Regions from separate parts of the Homo sapiens genome. Here region 1 is linked to region 2. The links come from fine-mapping of genetic effects on gene expression. A gene starts in region 2. The other region holds a variant in brackets. All regions are shown on one strand. Distances are between the middles of the regions. Region 1 overlaps HK1 (hexokinase 1). Region 2 holds the start of HK1 (hexokinase 1).

What was found. PIP is the estimated chance that this variant, and not a neighbour inherited with it, causes the effect.
Region 1: its variant is the best candidate, but not a certain one, in a credible set for the expression of HK1 in monocytes (Fairfax 2014, PIP 0.54).

The regions. Positions count from the first base shown.
Region 1 is chr10:69,336,709-69,344,708 of GRCh38, forward strand. It overlaps HK1 (hexokinase 1), which reads left to right. Exons shown (of 18, transcript NM_000188.3): 2 at 7,119-7,281. Among named protein-coding and RNA genes, the nearest start is that of HK1, 22 kb to the left of the region's middle. RefSeq lists enhancers at 373-1,060, 1,061-1,746, 2,435-3,120, 6,709-7,562. The variant A/AT (reference allele first, on the strand shown) is at 4,435.
Region 2 is chr10:69,315,823-69,324,311 of GRCh38, forward strand. It overlaps HK1 (hexokinase 1), which reads left to right and starts at 3,025. Exons shown (of 18, transcript NM_000188.3): 1 at 3,025-3,188. The coding sequence starts at 3,126. RefSeq lists enhancers at 2,039-2,268, 3,559-3,608, 5,194-6,110 and a silencer at 2,579-3,258.

The DNA.
Region 1 (8,000 bases), 21 kb after region 2:
AGCTCACTGCAACCTCTGCCTCCTGGGTTCAAGTGATTCTCCTGCCTCAGCTTCCCAAGTAGCTGGGATTACAGGCATCTGCCACCACACCCGGCTAATTTTTTTTGTATTTTTAGTAGAGTTGGGGTTTCACCATGTTGGCCAGGCTGGTCTTGAACTCCTGACCTCTCAAGTGATCCACCCGCCTCGGCCTCCCATAGTGCTGGGATTACAAGCGTGAGCCACCGTGCCTGGCCGGTAGATGTATTTTTCAGGCATTGAGATGAAAGGAGTTAGGGGTACATGATTATGTCACTTAGGGATGGGAGGGAGGGAAATGACACTTGATGCTTACTTTGTTTCTGCACATTAAAATCCTCCCCATAACCCTCTGAAGTGGAGGATTTATTATCTCCATCTTAAAAGTGAGACTCAGAGAGATTAAGTAACTTGTCCAAAGTCACACAGCTAATAAATCGGATTTGAACCCAGCTCTCTGTCCACAGCCCTGTGTACTTTCCACCATGTGAGGAAAATGGAAATGCTTAAGGTGAAGCCCCAAATGGGAGGTTACGAGCCCTGGAATCTAGACCCAGCTGCCATTTCTAAACTCCCCAACTTAGCTTGAATCATGGGTCTGTTTCCTCTCCTAGATAATGGAGATAATGATGTCTTTCCTGCCTACTTCACTGGGCTGCAGTGACAGGAGAAAGGGAACTAGCATTAAAGCACCTGCTTCCTGCGTGGCACTTGGCATCCACAAGCTCATTTCACTTCTTTCTACACAGTTCAAATGGGATAATGTATGTGAAGGTCCTGTATCTGAAGGGCCAGTGCACATGTGAGCCATTGCTAATTGTGATGTTAATAAGCACCCAGGACCCGTTCTCTCTGAGTCAGTGTCCTTAGCAAAGGGAAGTGAATTCTGATGTTGAAATCTCTGTCCTCCCCTAAGCTAACATCTTTCTTAACCCTTCAGGGTGCACGCCACAATTTCCTTTTGTAAGTGGAGCGCCTTGCTTGGAAAGTTCATTTTAAAGGCCTGCGTCAGCAGCTTCAGTCACGCCTGCTGTTCTGCAGCATTCTCGATCCTCACGGGAGGGTGGATGAGAGAGGGAGTGAAATTTTCCATGGCTGTGCACCCTTCCACGGGGTGGGGTGAAAATGGCTGGGATGGTTACCAGTGGTTACTGGTGCCTCCTGCTGCGACCGGCCTGTTCACTTGGGCATGTCCAATCTTGCGTTTGTTTTTTGTGCATGTTCTGTTGGGAGCAGGAGGTGGGGCTGGGGTCGGGCACAGAAATGTTTGTGAGTTGATTGCAGTGCTAGGCCATTGAGTTCTTTCCTTGGTTGGAGGGCTCTGAGCCAGGGAAGCTTGGCGAGGCTGTGTGTTCTCTGCTGATGACATGTCCTCCTGCTCTGCGGGGGTCCAACTTTGGGAGCCGCTGAGAGCTTCAAGGCCCCCTTGGTCCACAAGAAGGAGAATCCAGGACAAGTGTCTGGAAAGTGTTTGAGCAAGAGCGCCCGCCCTGTGCAGCCGGTCTGGCTACCCTCATAGGAAGGGCTCTTCACTCTGGGCAGCGGTGGACAGAGGCCCTGGAGGCTGGATGCGGGTTCTCAGGCAAGAGTCTGAGGGACCCAGCTCGGTGTCTGATGTCTGGTGTCTGGGACTGGGCGCCTTCCCATTTCCATCCCAGCCTGACCAGACTGACCAGAGTCCCACATATTCGTCTCAGACACTGGTTTGAGAGGGAGCATTTGAGGGCCTGGGTTTCTGTCATGACTCCTGGGAACCTCTGTCTTCTGATAGATGGTCCACAGACCGAGGCTTGCAGTGGAAGCAGCTGGAAGTGGTGCTGTGCGGTGTCCTCCCCAACTCCCAAATGGAGTGTGGGGAGGGATTCTTCGGGCACTGATGTTTGGCTGGAGCAGTAAAGCAGCGGTGATGTGGAGGCAGCACCTAAGAGAAGGGGACAGGATTATGGAGATGTGAGTGTGTGTGTGTGTGTGTGTGTGTGTGTGTAAGTACTTGTGTGTGTATGTGTGAGTGTGTGAGAGTGTGTGTGTGTGAGAGATTGTGTATGTGAGAGTGTGTGTGTGTAGAGAGAGAGGGAAGAGGGGAAAAGGAAGGAGGAGAGTAAAGATCTGGAGATGCTGTGGAGAGGAGGACAGAAATAGAAAAGTTGAAAGGCCAGACTTTGGCCAAATCCCCAAAGACCAAGAGTCAGCCTTTCTTCCTGGGTTTCTGGCAGAGATCTGGAGCAACTGGGCAGGAGAGATTTCTCCAATGCCCTTTCTTCCTCCCTCTCTCCTTCAACCCACTGCCCATTCCCAGCCTCTTTCCCAGGGAGACAGGCGTGGTCCAGTGGAGTGCCAGGAGGGGCTGGTCTGAACGAGGAAGATGCGTTTTGCTCAGTGAAGTGCTGGGTTCTCTGGGCCCCTGGAAGTTTTCTGCAGGTGTCTCTAGTCATGTGCTTTTCTCCAGTGCCTCCGGGCCACTTAAAGGCCCACAGTCCAGAGGGGCATGTCTGCTGAGTCCTGCACCAGGTGCCTGCCTGGCTGGGCAGTGTGGCAGATACCAGGGAGCTGACTTCTCCCCTGGCAGCCCAGCCCCAGGCCTAGGGTATTTGCTGGTTCAGTGGCCCCTTCTGATCTCCCGAGGACCAGTGGAAAGAAAGGGCTTCCCTTCATTGTCCTCATTCATGTAAAATCCAGGAGGCCCCAGTTTCAGTTCCGGCCTTGCCTCAATTGGGCCTCCCTTTTGGCCCCAGTATTCATGTCTCTTCTGAGAGGGGTTGTACCTCATGACGACTCATGAACCTGAACAAAAGGAGGAAAACCCTCCCTCCATAGCAGCTTGAGGACCAGGCCGTTCTCTGTGTCTGCAGCCTGCTTTTTGATTTGAGCTTCTAAGCTTTATTTGGATTTAGCTTGGTTGTCCTGAAACGTTGGGGTTTTTGGATCAATGTCTGTGTGCTGAGCTGCACCTTGACTTAGAAGGCAGGATAGCTGTGGAGTTATGGAGAGCTGCCTTTTCTAGAAGCTTCTCCTGTCCAGCGGGAAAACCCCAACAGCTCTACTTGGATCTGCCTTCTGCAGAGCAGGGGACCAGTCTTTCTTAAGGGGCAGGGATGATTGTATGGAGGAGCCTTAGACTTGCAGGTATAAAACCTCACTCCCCCAGCTGTGTGCTTTGAACTAATCACTTAGCTTCTTGGACCATCAGTTTCTGTGTCTGTAAAATGGGGATTAAGAACATCTCCCAGACAGTTTTGAAGGTTAAATGACATACTGGATCTTGATATACTGATATACTGTAAGCCACAAGAGAATTATATAGTATTATTCCAGGATCCAGCATTGTTTGAATTCCTCCTTTGTGTCAAGCAACTGGGTGAGTTCCAAAGGTCTATTCAATATGTTTTCTTTCCCTGGGGAACTCACGCAGTATCATAGGAGATGGACAGCTTGGTAAAAGGATAATCATGATGTGTGAGGAGTGTGGTCGTTGGGGCGTGTCCAAAATGCTGGAGTAGCAATGTACCTTTTTTAAAATTAAAATTAAAAAAAATTTTTTGAGATGGAGTCTTGCTGCATTGCCCAGGCTGGAGTGCGATGGCGCGATCTTGGCTGACTGCAATCTTCTCTACCTCCTGGGTTCACGCGATTCTCATATCTCAGTCTCCTGAGTAGCTGGGATTACAGGCATGCACCACCATGCCCAGCTAATTTTTGTATTTTTAGTAGAGACCGGGTTTTACCATGTTGGCCAGGCTGGTCTTGAACTCCTGACCTCAGGTAATCCACTCGCCTCGGCCTCTCAAAGTTCTGGGGTTACAGGCATGAGCCATTGCTCCCGGCCTTAAAATTAAAATTAAAAAATATTTTAGAGGTGCGATATCACTATGTTGCTCAGGCTGGTCTTGAACTTTTGGGCCTAAGCAATCCTCCTGCCTCGGCCTCCCAAAGTGCCAGGATTACAGGCATGAGCCACTGTGCCAGCTAGCAATGTAGCTTTTATTGTATGATCTTGCGCTTGCTCCTCCATTCTCCACGCAGCAGACACACAACTCTCATCATGGTTGTAATCAGTAAAGCCGTCCCAAGGCTCGCTGTGCTGTGGGATCCCGCTTGTATTTGTTTATGTGGCTCATCAGGCCCTGTGTGGTTGAGCTCTGGACAGTCTTTCCAGGCACACCGTCTGCTTGTTCATCACAAAAACCACCCTCCCTCCCCTTCGGACTTCACACATGCCCTTGCTTGTGCCTGGGCATGCTCTCCAACTTCGCCTCTCCAGGAAGCCTTCTCTCCCATGCTTGCAACGTGGCTGTCTCTCCCTGCAGACCCAGGGCACTATGATGGCAAGGGCTGCTGATGAATGCCACCAGCCAGAATAGGGCATGGCTTGTCTCTCCTCCCAGGGCCATGTTTTTGGCAATTTTATTTCCTTTAAAA[A/AT]ATATATATACATATTTCTTTCTTTCTTTTTTTTTTGGAGACTGGATCTAAGTCTGTCACCCAGGCTGGGGTACAGTGGCAGGATCATAGCACCCTGCAACCTCTGCTTCCCCAGCTCAGGCAATCCTCCCGCCTCAGTCTCCCGAGTAGCTGGGACTACAGGGGCGTATCACCACGCCTGGCTAATTTTTGTATTTTTTTAGAGACGAGGTTTTGCCAAGTTTCCCAGGCTGCTCTCGAACTCCTGGCCCCAAGCAATCTGCCTGCCTTAGCCTCCCAAAGTGTTGGGATTACAGGTGTGGGCCACTGCTCCTGGCCAATTGTTAATTTTTTTTTTTTTTAGAGACAGTCTCACTCTGTCACTTAGGCTGGAGTACAGTGGTTCAATCATGGCTCAATGCAGCCTCAACCTCTTGGGCCCAAGTGATCCTCTTGCCTCAGCCTCCCGAGTAGCTGAGACTACAGGTGTGCATCACCATGCTGGGCTAATTTTTATTTTTTGTAGAGACAGGGTTGTTGCCCAGGCTAATCTCGAACTCCTGGGCTCAAATGATCCTGCTGCCTTGGCCTTGCAAAGTTCTAGAATTACAGGTGTCAGCCACCATGCCTGGCCTCTTCTGGCAATTTCTATTCTGGCTCTTGGTGGTTCCTGATTGCCCTTCTTTGAGCTGCTTTATTGTAAAGGGAAAAAGGTGGTAGGGCTAGTGGTTAGGAGTGGGGGCAAGGATCATCCTTGGGCGCAGAGAGTGTTGGCAGACATTTTGGGAGGCCTAGGTGGGTGGATCACTTGAGGTCAGGAGTTTGAGACCAGCCTGGCCAACATGGTGAAACCCTGTCTCTACTAAAAATACAAAAATTAGCAGGGCGTGGTGGCGCACGCCTGTAATCCCAGCCACTCAGGAGGCTGAGGCAGGAGAATTGCTTGAACCTGGGAGGTGGAGGTTGCAGTGAGCCAAGATTCTGCCACTGCATTCCAGCCTGGGTGACAGAGATAGACTATGAAAAAAAAACCAACCCCAAAAACAAACAAACAAACAAACAAACAAACAAACAAAGGAAAAAACACCAGTGTTAAGGTCTTTTCAGCCTTGTGGGGCTGTAAATCTGTCTCTCTATCCAGTGGGAGCCTTCTGTGTGCAAGGCTCCATGTGAGGCACTGGGGAGGTCAGGGTGACACGCATGGAAAGCTGGGATCCAGACCAGACCCTGCCTAGGGGTCAGTGCTGAAGGAGTGGTGATATCCAGCCTGAAGGACTTGGACATCTTCAGGAGGAAGTGACAGTTGATTTGAACCTTGAAGGTTAGGTGAGCTGGGAAGAAAAGGAAGGGCATTTCAGGTAGAGGTGACAGCAGAAGGAGGAGAGCCTGGAGCACCTACTAGGAATGGTAGAGGTGGTTTGGCCGGAGTTCAGAGAGCACAGAGCCACACCTGCAGAGGGTAGGTGCCTTGGCAGTGGGGAGGCATTGCAAGGCTTTGGGCAGAGGCATGACTTGATTAGGGTTGCACTTTAAGAGGCTGATGCTGCAGTGGTGTAGAAGATGGGTTGGAAGGAAGAGATTGAAGATAAACTGTTACAGTGGATCATCAGCAATCCAGGCACACAGAGCAGCAGAAAGAGTGGATGGTGAAACAAAAGAACCTTCCTCGGTGGACTCTACAGGGATAGTGCCATCAGGACAGGTGTCTAGCTCAATTCTAGGCACCTAGCTGGTGCCCAGTGAATCCTTTTTTGGGAGAATAAATGCGAAGATGCCATGAAGGACAAACAATTAGTGATAGCCAGTGACAACCCAGGGTGCCTAAGGTTAGGAGCCTGGGCAGCTTGAGGAGAACGGGGAACTCAGGAAGAGGAGCAGGTTGGGTCAGGCCTGGTGAAGGGTGGGAGTAGTTTGACTCGGAGGTGCAGGGCCCATGGCCTGGCACACAGGCCCGGCACATGGGTATGGGAGCCCAGGGGCTGTCTCCATTCATTGAGGCTGGGTTTAAGGTTTCTGTGCTCTGGGCCTGCCACCCTGTGTTCTCAGAAGGGTCCTAGCCCTTTGGCCGCCATTTCTGTCTTTCTAGAAGTCTTGCCCATGGACACCTGCCAGTACTACTGTCTCATGTTAATAATAATAGCTGATGTTTATTGAGCAGTTACTGTGTTCTAAGTGCTTGTGTCTCATTTGAACTTGTCCTATATGTTAGGTCCTATCTATCATCTCAGTTTTTCAGTTGAGGAAACTGAAATTCACACAGCTGTTAAGCTCTGGGGCTAGGATTGAACCCAGTTGGCTGGCTCCAGAGCCCTTGTTCGTAGCCTCTCTGTCATTCCCATCCCAGTGAGAGTGAGCCAGCCAATTCTCAGAGAGAGAAGGAGGCTTGAGGTGTTCCTGATACTGGAGGAAACCTACCTCCATCAAGTACTTGGGGGTTGAAGAGCAGCTTCCATGTCATATTTGAGGGTTGGAAAGGATCTTAGAGATATCGGGTTCATTTTACAGGCCAGGAACTAGGGCTCAGAGCATTTGCAAGCCTGTTCTGGGTGACATGGATGACAGCAGTTGAATGACCTTCCGCCATGCGATGTGCCAGCGTGCGTGTTCCTGTGCCTGTGGGAGCTGGCTATCTCAGCGGGTGGGTGCCTCACCTTGCCCTGTCCTCCCCCTCGACCTCACTCTCCTTCCTTCTCATCCCCCTCCAGATTGACAAGTATCTCTATGCCATGCGGCTCTCCGATGAAACTCTCATAGATATCATGACTCGCTTCAGGAAGGAGATGAAGAATGGCCTCTCCCGGGATTTTAATCCAACAGCCACAGTCAAGATGTTGCCAACATTCGTAAGGTCCATTCCTGATGGCTCTGGTAAGTCTGTCACCCAGAGATTGAACCCTGAGGGCTAAATGTTCTGTGAAATCTTCCTTCTAACTTCATTTGTTCATACATTTGCTCATTCATTCATTCACCATTCCATCAATCTGCTCTCCCATCCATCCATCCATCCATCCGCTGATCCATCTGCTGATCCATCCATCCATCCATCCATCCGCTGATCCATCCATCCAATATGTGTCTACTGAGACCTTATGCCAGTCACTGGGGATACCATGGTTGGGCAAGGCTGACCTGCTGTCATTGACTTTACTGTCTAGTGGCTTGTGATACTTTAGAAAGTGTAGTGTTTATGGGTCTCGCAGATACTGTGTGGGTTGCTCTTATGTCTTCAGAACATGAAGAACTCCAGAACAAATGAAGGGTTCATTTTAGGGAAATCTCTCCATCAGGGAATCAAAGCTTCCCTCTCTTCTTATCCCAGATAATAGCAATCCTAATGGACAGGTGGGTCTCAGACTTAAAGGCAGAGATTCCAGACCCCCTTTGGACAGATTTCACAGATGCAGAATTGAGGCAGCCCCCAAAACAAAGAAATACAGAGGGGAGGTAGAATTGAAAGAAAAATTGTATCCTTTCACTCTGCATCCTGTGGCTCATACCCTGCAGTGGGGCGTTGGGGGAGGGCCCCCTGAGGATTGTCTGTTTCTCCTCCCCAGAGGAGTGGTATCAGCCCCTGCACCTGGCTGAGC
Region 2 (8,489 bases):
CACTGGCTGGGCATCAGGACTAGGCTGGAGTCCTGGCTCAAAACTCTACCACAACCTGACACTGGGCAAGATGGCCCACCTGTGGCATCCCAGGTTCCTGCCCTGTAAAGAGGAGTCTGGGTGTATATCCAGATGGACTGTGAGCACAGCCTGAGTTTGCCCTGTCGAGGTGCTGAGGCCTGGGAGATTGGGGTGAGTAGCTGTGGTCCAGGGAAGGTTGGCAAGCTGGGCCTTAGATGAGAGGGGATGCTTGGTCAGGCAGAGGTGAGTGGAGAAGGCAGGGCAAGGAAGGGAATATGAGCGGCGAACAAATGGAGTGGACATGGTGGGGGCAGAGGATGGTGGGAAGTGGCCTTGTTGCGGCCAGAGTGGAGGAAGAGATAAGTGGGAAAGAGTGGAGTCGATTACAGAAGGCCTCGGAAACCAGGCAGAGATGTTTAAATTGGCTCTCTCAGGAAGGAGAGGGCCATGAAGGGATTTAGGGAAGGGTCATGACATGATTATGCTGCATTTTAGCAGGATTAATGTGACCTGGTGCTCAGAATGACTTGGATGGCATGAGGCCAGGAGCCGAGGAGGACAGTTAGAAGACTCTTGTAATATTTCTGGCACAGGGAGATGGACTGGGAGTTGGGAGGTGGCAATAGGTCAGGCCTAGAGACATTTCTCAGGAAATATTGACAGGCCTTGGGGCCTGGTTGCATTCATGGAGTGGGGAGGAATGAGTCACCTTGAGAAGCAGTTTCCCTCTCAAAGGCCAGGGAAGACAAAGCAGAGGCAGCTTTCCTGCCTGCAAACAGGACATTTCAGGGTAACCTGGCTCTTCCAAGCGTCAGCTTCTCCCTGGCTCCAGCTCAGATAGGAGTTGTAACAACGGGTTGGGCATGGGTGATGGCACCGGCTGGTGGCTGGGTTAAGGGCCATGTTTTTGATTATGCATTAGGCTTATTCAGCCTGCCAAGTGCCAGGCCCTGCGCTTGTGTAGGAGACAGAGCAATTAGCAAAACATAGTCCTCCATCCTCAAGGAGTTTCCAGCCCTGTGAGCTTGGCAGATCTGCAGAACTCAAATGAAATGGCAGTTGAGAACAACCATCTTGTTCTCATTCACTCCATTTTGCTTAACGGCCATGTAGGTAGTTCCAAATGTTTGATGTGTACCAGAAAATCTCTCTCTTCCTGGTTTATAATTATGATCCAGGGCAAATCCAGGTTTTGTTGGGCTTGAAAATTAAATAAATTGGCACTCTCTATGGAAAATAATTCAAATATAAATATACAAATATCACACTGCTAGGCCCTCCCAGGGCCTAGAAGGGTAGGAATGAAAGTGAGAGTCCCTGAAGCTTTAACCGCATTAACTTTTCAGTCAGTTCTATGATACCTGCCATTCCTTAAGTGTGTATTATGTGCACGTATTTTGCGTACAGTATTACACAACAATCAAGGGGAGGTGAGGTGGGCATTAGTGTCTTCATCTTATGGATGAAGACACAGTCTCAGAGGTGATTCAAGATGCCCCTCTGCATAGGCCCTAAGGCAGGGGGTGGGGACTGTGACCTGGACAGGAAGCTGGGGCCTCAGGACTGCATCTAAGCTCCTCCTTTTCTGTGGGTGATGGTGGCTGTCAGGCCCCTGAACCTACGTCATCCCTCCCTCTGATTTGACTGTACCTTTGCTAGGCCTGGTCAAGGGCTAGGGACTCCTAAAGTCAAGAGCTAGGGTAGAGGTTGGGGGTTGGATCTCAGGGCACCATATGGTGCAGACTTGGTTGCAGGAAAGTGACCTATTTAGGCAGAGGGGCTCTATACAACTGGGACCACAGCAAACCCTAGAGGTGAGCACCTGCTTCAAAGACTCACAGATCCAAGCTGTGATCCTAGATCTACAACTTCCTGGCTGTATAAAGTCCAGCAAGACTGAGGCCTCACTGAGCTTCAATTTCCTTACCTGTCTAACCAGAATAGCAACAACTTGTTTGTATATTTGAGCTCATTACATGTCATTTTGTAAGGCACTAAAGCTCCTGGAGGCTTCCGGAACACAGAAATAATTAATCTAAGAATCCTAAAGTGGCTGTCCTGGTAGCACCTCTAGGGAGTCCTCCCATCCTACGTAACTTCCTCTGGGAAAGTAGAAAACACGGCACCTGGGAAGGGGCGCTGAACCGTGCCCCAAGTCCCAGTGGGCCTGGATGCCCAAGAGCAAGAGGAGGCCCAGAGGATGGGGACAGGCCACGACCTGTGGCCCAAGTCCCGCCCAGAGGGAGTGCGCCCTGAGGGAGAGCCACCGGAGCTGGTGACTCGGGGGCGGGTGCTCTGGGGTGTCGCTTTGGGTTCAGCAATACAAATCTGCCAGCTGGAGATTAGGCGGGGCACGCCGGGGAGAGGTGATGCACTGCCGCTGAAGACCCAGGTAGGCCGGTGCGTTCGGCCTGGGTGAGGAAGGCGCGGGACCCGGGTGCGAGGACTGCGTAGCGTCCCCGGCTCCCGCTTCCGCCCGCTTTCCACGCCCACTTCTGCAAGTCCCCTCCGGCACCTCGGCGTCCACCGGACTCCTAGGGGCGAGCCCTCATTTCCGAGGAATGGGACCGCCTTCGTGCCCCCGGGGCTGCCAGTCCCTAGACTAGCCCTAGGGGCTTCTCGTCCCGGCGGAGCCGGGCGGTGCCTCCTGCCTGCGCCTCGCACCTCCCCGCCTGGCACGGCCCACCCGGGCACGGCGCCGCCACGCGTGAAGGCCCGCATCGGCTCCCTACGTGGGGGACGTGCAGGATGATGCGGGGTCGGGGGGGATTTCGCTGCGTCGCCCGCCCCCTTTCCGGCGCAGGAGGGAGCGGCCGCCGCGTCCCCGCTCCCCGGCCGGGACGCCACCGCCGGGCGTTGCAGAGGCGCGCCGCAACCAATGGGCGTGGAGGAGGTGGGTCGGCTGGCGGCTGTCACCCTCCAGGGGACGGGAGCGCGGAGACCGGGAGCGCGCGAGCTGTCGCCGCGCCCCGGGCCGAGGGGGAGGAGCCGGGGGAGGAGGAGGAGGAGGAGCCGCCGAGCAGCCGCCGGAGGACCACGGCTCGCCAGGGCTGCGGAGGACCGACCGTCCCCACGCCTGCCGCCCCGCGACCCCGACCGCCAGCATGATCGCCGCGCAGCTCCTGGCCTATTACTTCACGGAGCTGAAGGATGACCAGGTCAAAAAGGTGAGCCCCCGCCCGCGCCGCCGCTGGTCCTGGCCGCAGCCTTGCGTTCCGGCATCCGCTCGCCGCCTCCGCTGCCTCCATCCTCCGGCGCCCGGCCTTCTCCGGGCCAGCATCGAGTTGGACTGCAGGGCGCAAGGAAAGCCTTCGCCTTCGATTCTACCGGCATTGTCAGTGTCTCTGTGTGTGTGCGTTTTTGGGAGGGGGGCAATCGGGCGGAAGACCCCCGAGACCGGGCTGCCTGCTGCAGTGTCCTTGAAACGGGCCCTGGATGTCAGATAGGCCCCCGGGCTGTGCGGGGAGGTGGCCGGTGGGCCCTTCCGCAGGGCCTGTTCGGGAGGGTCCGAGCGCCGTGGGAGGAGGTGTGATCATGGAGATGCTGGGGAGGTGATCGAGCAGCAGGCGGGGGTGCTGGCTGGAGGCCAGGCCTCCCATATTTGGGGTTCCTGGCGGAGGGTGTCGGGTGCCCCGGAGAAGCTGTCGCCGGGCTCTCCCAGTTGTTTGAGCTGCTCGTTAATCTGAGGACGAGGTGACCCGCCCGGCTTCCCGGAACGGGGAGGGGCGGCGAGGCCACCGGAAACTTTGCTCATAGGCCTCGTGTCTGGAGCGGCACGTCTGAATGGAATTTTTTATTCCTCTTAAGCTGTAATTTCTAGCCAGCACAGGAGCTCAAATAAGCGACTGGTCATTTGAGTTGGGTGGACGCCTGTGGCATGCTTGTTCTAGCACTTGGACGCATGCATCCTCCTGTCCTGAGGTGTTGTTGCCTTTGACATCTTAGTGTAAAATACTGTCCGCTGGCAGGTCTTAAAGGTGTATTTGTCTCTTCTGCCAGCTGTGCTACCATATTTTAAAGAAACAGCCTAAGCTGTAGGGAAAGACGCCCGTTTTATCAGTGCCAGGTCTGGTACAGGCTCCAGGCCCACCCACCCTGAACGTGGTGACGTTATTGCTGGGGTTAGCTGGGATGGACTGGCAAAGTCATCTTGACTTTGGCGTTCAGACAGGTGGAGTTCTACAGGTGAAAGGCAGGAGTGACAGGCCTTGATTTTCTGCCCGGCAAGCCATAGGGTGTTCCATCCTCTTCCTGTGCATCTAAGATGACTCCCTCATCTGGCACCATAGGAAACAGGCCTACTGAGGGCAGCGACCTTATCAAGGTCACCCAGTGAGTTAGAGGCAGAGCCAGTCAGGGGGATCCAGGTCTCCCAGTGCCTCCACCCAGGAACTTCACCAGGGTCCTCCTGGAGGTCAGCTTCCAGGAGGGAGTGGGTACTGAGAGACAAAGCCGCTGGGGACCCTGCCGTGATCTTGGATCCCATGGTGGGTGGGGACCGGGAGTGAGGTAGGTAGGAGATAGGCTTGGGAATGCCATCTGCCATTGCTCTTTATGGCTTTAAGCACTCTGGGGTTGTCAAACCGTGGCACTCGAAACACTTGCTCCTATGGAGCACCCTGGAGCTTCCCTCTGGCCACTGACCTGGGAGCTGTGCGTGCGGGTGTGTGCATTTCATGAGTTTTCTCTAGTGGTGTTGTGCATCACTGATGTTCTTCCCATTGGACCAGGGAGACAGTTCTCCCGGCATGGCAAGAAGTGCCCAGAACAGGCCTCCTGAAGCCAAGAGTTCACTGTCCTCCTGCACGTGGTGTCCTTTATAGCTCAAGACAGTGGGCTGCTGGGCTGGGGGGTGCCTGGGTGACCTTGTAAACCTCCAGTGTCCACACCCACCACCACCCACAACAGACTGCTGGCTGTTGGCTGCCGGTGGCCTCCAGCAGCTGAGCTGGGCTGAGGTTTGGACTCCATTCAGTGGGACATGTTTTCTCAGACATACAGTGTCTAGGGTGGGCCCAGAGCTCTCCACTCCTGTGGGTGGCTCAATTCACATCTATGGATGCACAGTCTATCTCCTAGGCCCCCGTAGGTACCTGAGTGTGTGATTCAGTTGACCCTTCCATCCCTCCTCACTCCGAGTTTGGGATTCTGATGTTCTTCCCTTCTCTTCCCCGAGAACCTTGCTGGAGGAAGGTCTTAAGGCCAAGGTTTCCACCAGATATTATTTGTCAAGGAGATTCTTAAAAACAAGATGTTTGCTTGCATTTCACCACGGACTTCCTATGCTGCTTTCTATAGGGGAGTACGTGGATTCCTGCCAGGGGGTCCACTCATTTTGCATAGTGGACTGTGTGGCACAGCCATCTGTGGGTGTGGTCCTGGCTATGATTGCGCCACCGCACTCCAGCCTGGGCCTTCTAAGGACAGTGACATAGTGGGTACTTGCTCCAGTGACCTACTCAGTTTTGCCCAAGTGTGCAGATGCTGGGGACCACATCTGCTCTTCTGGGGCCCAGGATTTCTTAGAGACCAGCTCTTTCCACGTACCACTCACCATAGGAAAGGCTAGGTGAAGGTGCGGGACCCCCTGTTCTTCCTGTGGGGCTGGACTCTGCCTGCCTCCCAGCAGGGACCTGCTGAGGATGGTTCCCCCCCAGCGTGGGCAGCCATGATGATTCAGCCCTCCAGCTGTAGGCAGCCTCCGGGGCTCTGGAGACAGACCTGGCATCCCTCAGTAACTCTCATCTATCTTCTTGCCCTCAGAGCCAGAGGTAGGAGAAGGGAAGCTGGGGACCATGCCGGGGAAGTTTTTGGGATTGCTTAGAATCCAAACGTGATCATGAAAATGGTGTCATTTCTTTCTTCATTGCCTATGAGGCACATCAATAATTCAACTCCATAAAAATATATCCTGGGTTGAAACAGTTCAGGTGTCTGACTTCCCAGCTTGGAACCCCATTATCCAGACGGCATCTGCATAAATTGGTTAATGGGTGCTGTTGAAGAGGGTGTACTGGCATTAGGCTGAGCTAAGCACAAAACACATATATTCCTTTCACTCTTCTAGTGCCTGTAGGAGGAAAGGGAGGCATATGTGTGCTTGTGAAGGATTCCATTCATCAGAATCCCAGACATCTGCCAGTTCTGCAGCTAGAGGCTGGGTTCTTTGACCTCTAAGTAACTTTAAACACGCATCTCATCTCGCCAGCTTCTTCCACTCGGTTTAGCCATTAGGAGCTTGGAGCAGGGTGAAGGATTGCATAGTGCTCTGTTTGTTTAGAAAGGGAAGATGGGTCCAGGAAGGTCAGAACTTGGCTTCTAAAGAAAGATTAGACTTCCTTTCCTCCAGGCTTGTCAGAATGGTGAGCAAATGCCAGTGGATTTTCTCTGGGCGAGATCCCCATAACGCTAAGTGATTTCCACTAGTAGGTGATCATGAAAAGGGTGTCATTTCTTTCCTCATTGCCTTGAGGCACATCAATAATTCAACTCCATAAAAATATATCCTGGGTTGAAACAGTTCAGGTGTCTGACTTCCCAGTTTGGAACCCCATTATCCAGACGGCATCTGCATAAATTGGTTAATGGGTGCTGTTGAAGAGAGTGTGATTTGTCCAATGGCCGAACTCAGGAGTCCTTGAGTACTTGACCCAGGAAGACAGGGGAGAGTAGGCTTAGCAATTAAAGGGTTGCCCAAGGTACATTCCTTAGAGCCTATGTGTTCCAGCTGCAAAAGCAAGCATTAAAAATAAATAAATAAATAAAAGGCCGATGTAGTGGCTCACACCTGTAATCTCAGCACTTTGGGAGGCTGAGGCGGGTGGATCACCTGAGGTCGGGAGTTCGAGACCAGCCTGACCAACATGGAGAAACCCCGTCTCTACTAAAAATACAAAATTAGCTGGGTGTGGTGGCGCATGCCTGTAATCCCAGCTACTTGGGAGGCTGAGGCCGGAGAATCACTTGAACCTGGAAGGCAGAGGTTGCGGTGAGCCGAGATCACGCCATTGCACTCCAGCCTAGGCAACGAGAGCGAAACTCCGTCTCAAAAAAAAAAAAAAATGCCCATTCATTATTGCTCAGGGGTGAGAGAGGTGATAGTTAGAAAATTGTGAAAAATCTGGCTGGGCACAGTGGCTCATGCCTGTAATCCCAGCACTTTGGGAGGCTGAGGCAGGTGAATCACGAAGTCAGGAGTTCAAGACCAGCCTGACCAATATGGTGAAATCCCGTCTCTACTAAAAATACAAAAATTAGCTGGACGTGGTAGCATGCACCTGAAGTCCCAGCTACTCGGGAGGCTGAGGCAGGAGAATTGCTTGAACCGGGGAGGCGGAGGTTGCATGAGCCAGGATCATGCCACTGCACTCCAGCCTGGGCAACAGAGCGAAACTCTGTCTCAAAAAAAAAAAAAAGAAAATTATGAAAAATCTGTGGGTTCTTGCAGTGGCAAAGAAAAAAAAGAAAAAATTATGAAAAGTCAGCCTGGGCAACAAAATTAAACCTCATCTTAAAAAAAAATTTTTTTTAGCCTGCTTTGGTGGCATGCACACACCTGTAGTCACAGCTACTCAGGAGGCTCATTGAGCCCAAAAGATTGATCCCAAAACAGTGAGCTGTGATGCTATGATTGTGTTACCGTACTCCAGGCTGGATGATAGAGCGAGACTCTGTCTCAAAAAAAAAAAAAAAAAAAGAAGAAAGAAAATTATGAGAAGTGTCTCATAACCTCTCAATTCTGATGTTGTACAAATATTCAGTGAGAGCTTCTTGGTGAATCTTGACTTTATAATCCCTGCCTTTCCTACCTTAGATACTCCTAGGGTTTCTCCCAAGAGAAGCCCCATCACTTTATCTGGTTGGATAGTTTGGGAATGTCATGAAGGAATAAACTGGCAGGCAGGGTGTCTGTGAGGTGCTTTCACATCTGGCCAAGCTGTGCCATGCTCCCACGCTCCTACTGTTCTCCGGAGAAGACATAGGCAGCTTTCCCCTTACAAGACTGATTTGGCATGACTGGGACTGTCTGTGTGTGTCTGCAGTCAGGGATTCCTGGCAGACAGATTTAGCCACTGGAATCACCTCTGAGCATGCCTGAGAAGGTCCAGGGAAGACATGGATAAAGACAGGGAGCTGTATACCTCTGCATCCAGGAATCAGTTGTGGTCAGACTGCTGGCACCTGCTTATGGATTTGTTTTTATTTTTTTATAGAGACAGGGTCTCACCATATTGCCCAGGCTGGTCTTGAACTCCTGGGCTCAGGCAGTCCTCCCGCCTTGGCCTCCCTAAGTATGCTTATTGATTTGAAAACCCTGAAGATCAAATCTGATCACAGGAGCTCAATCATTTCTTTAAAAAATGTTTGATTTTTTTATTATGTGCAGAGGACTGTGCTAGGCTGGGGTGACAACTATAAACAAGGCAGAAACGGTCCCAGTTCTCATGGAGCATAAAATATTTGCTGGC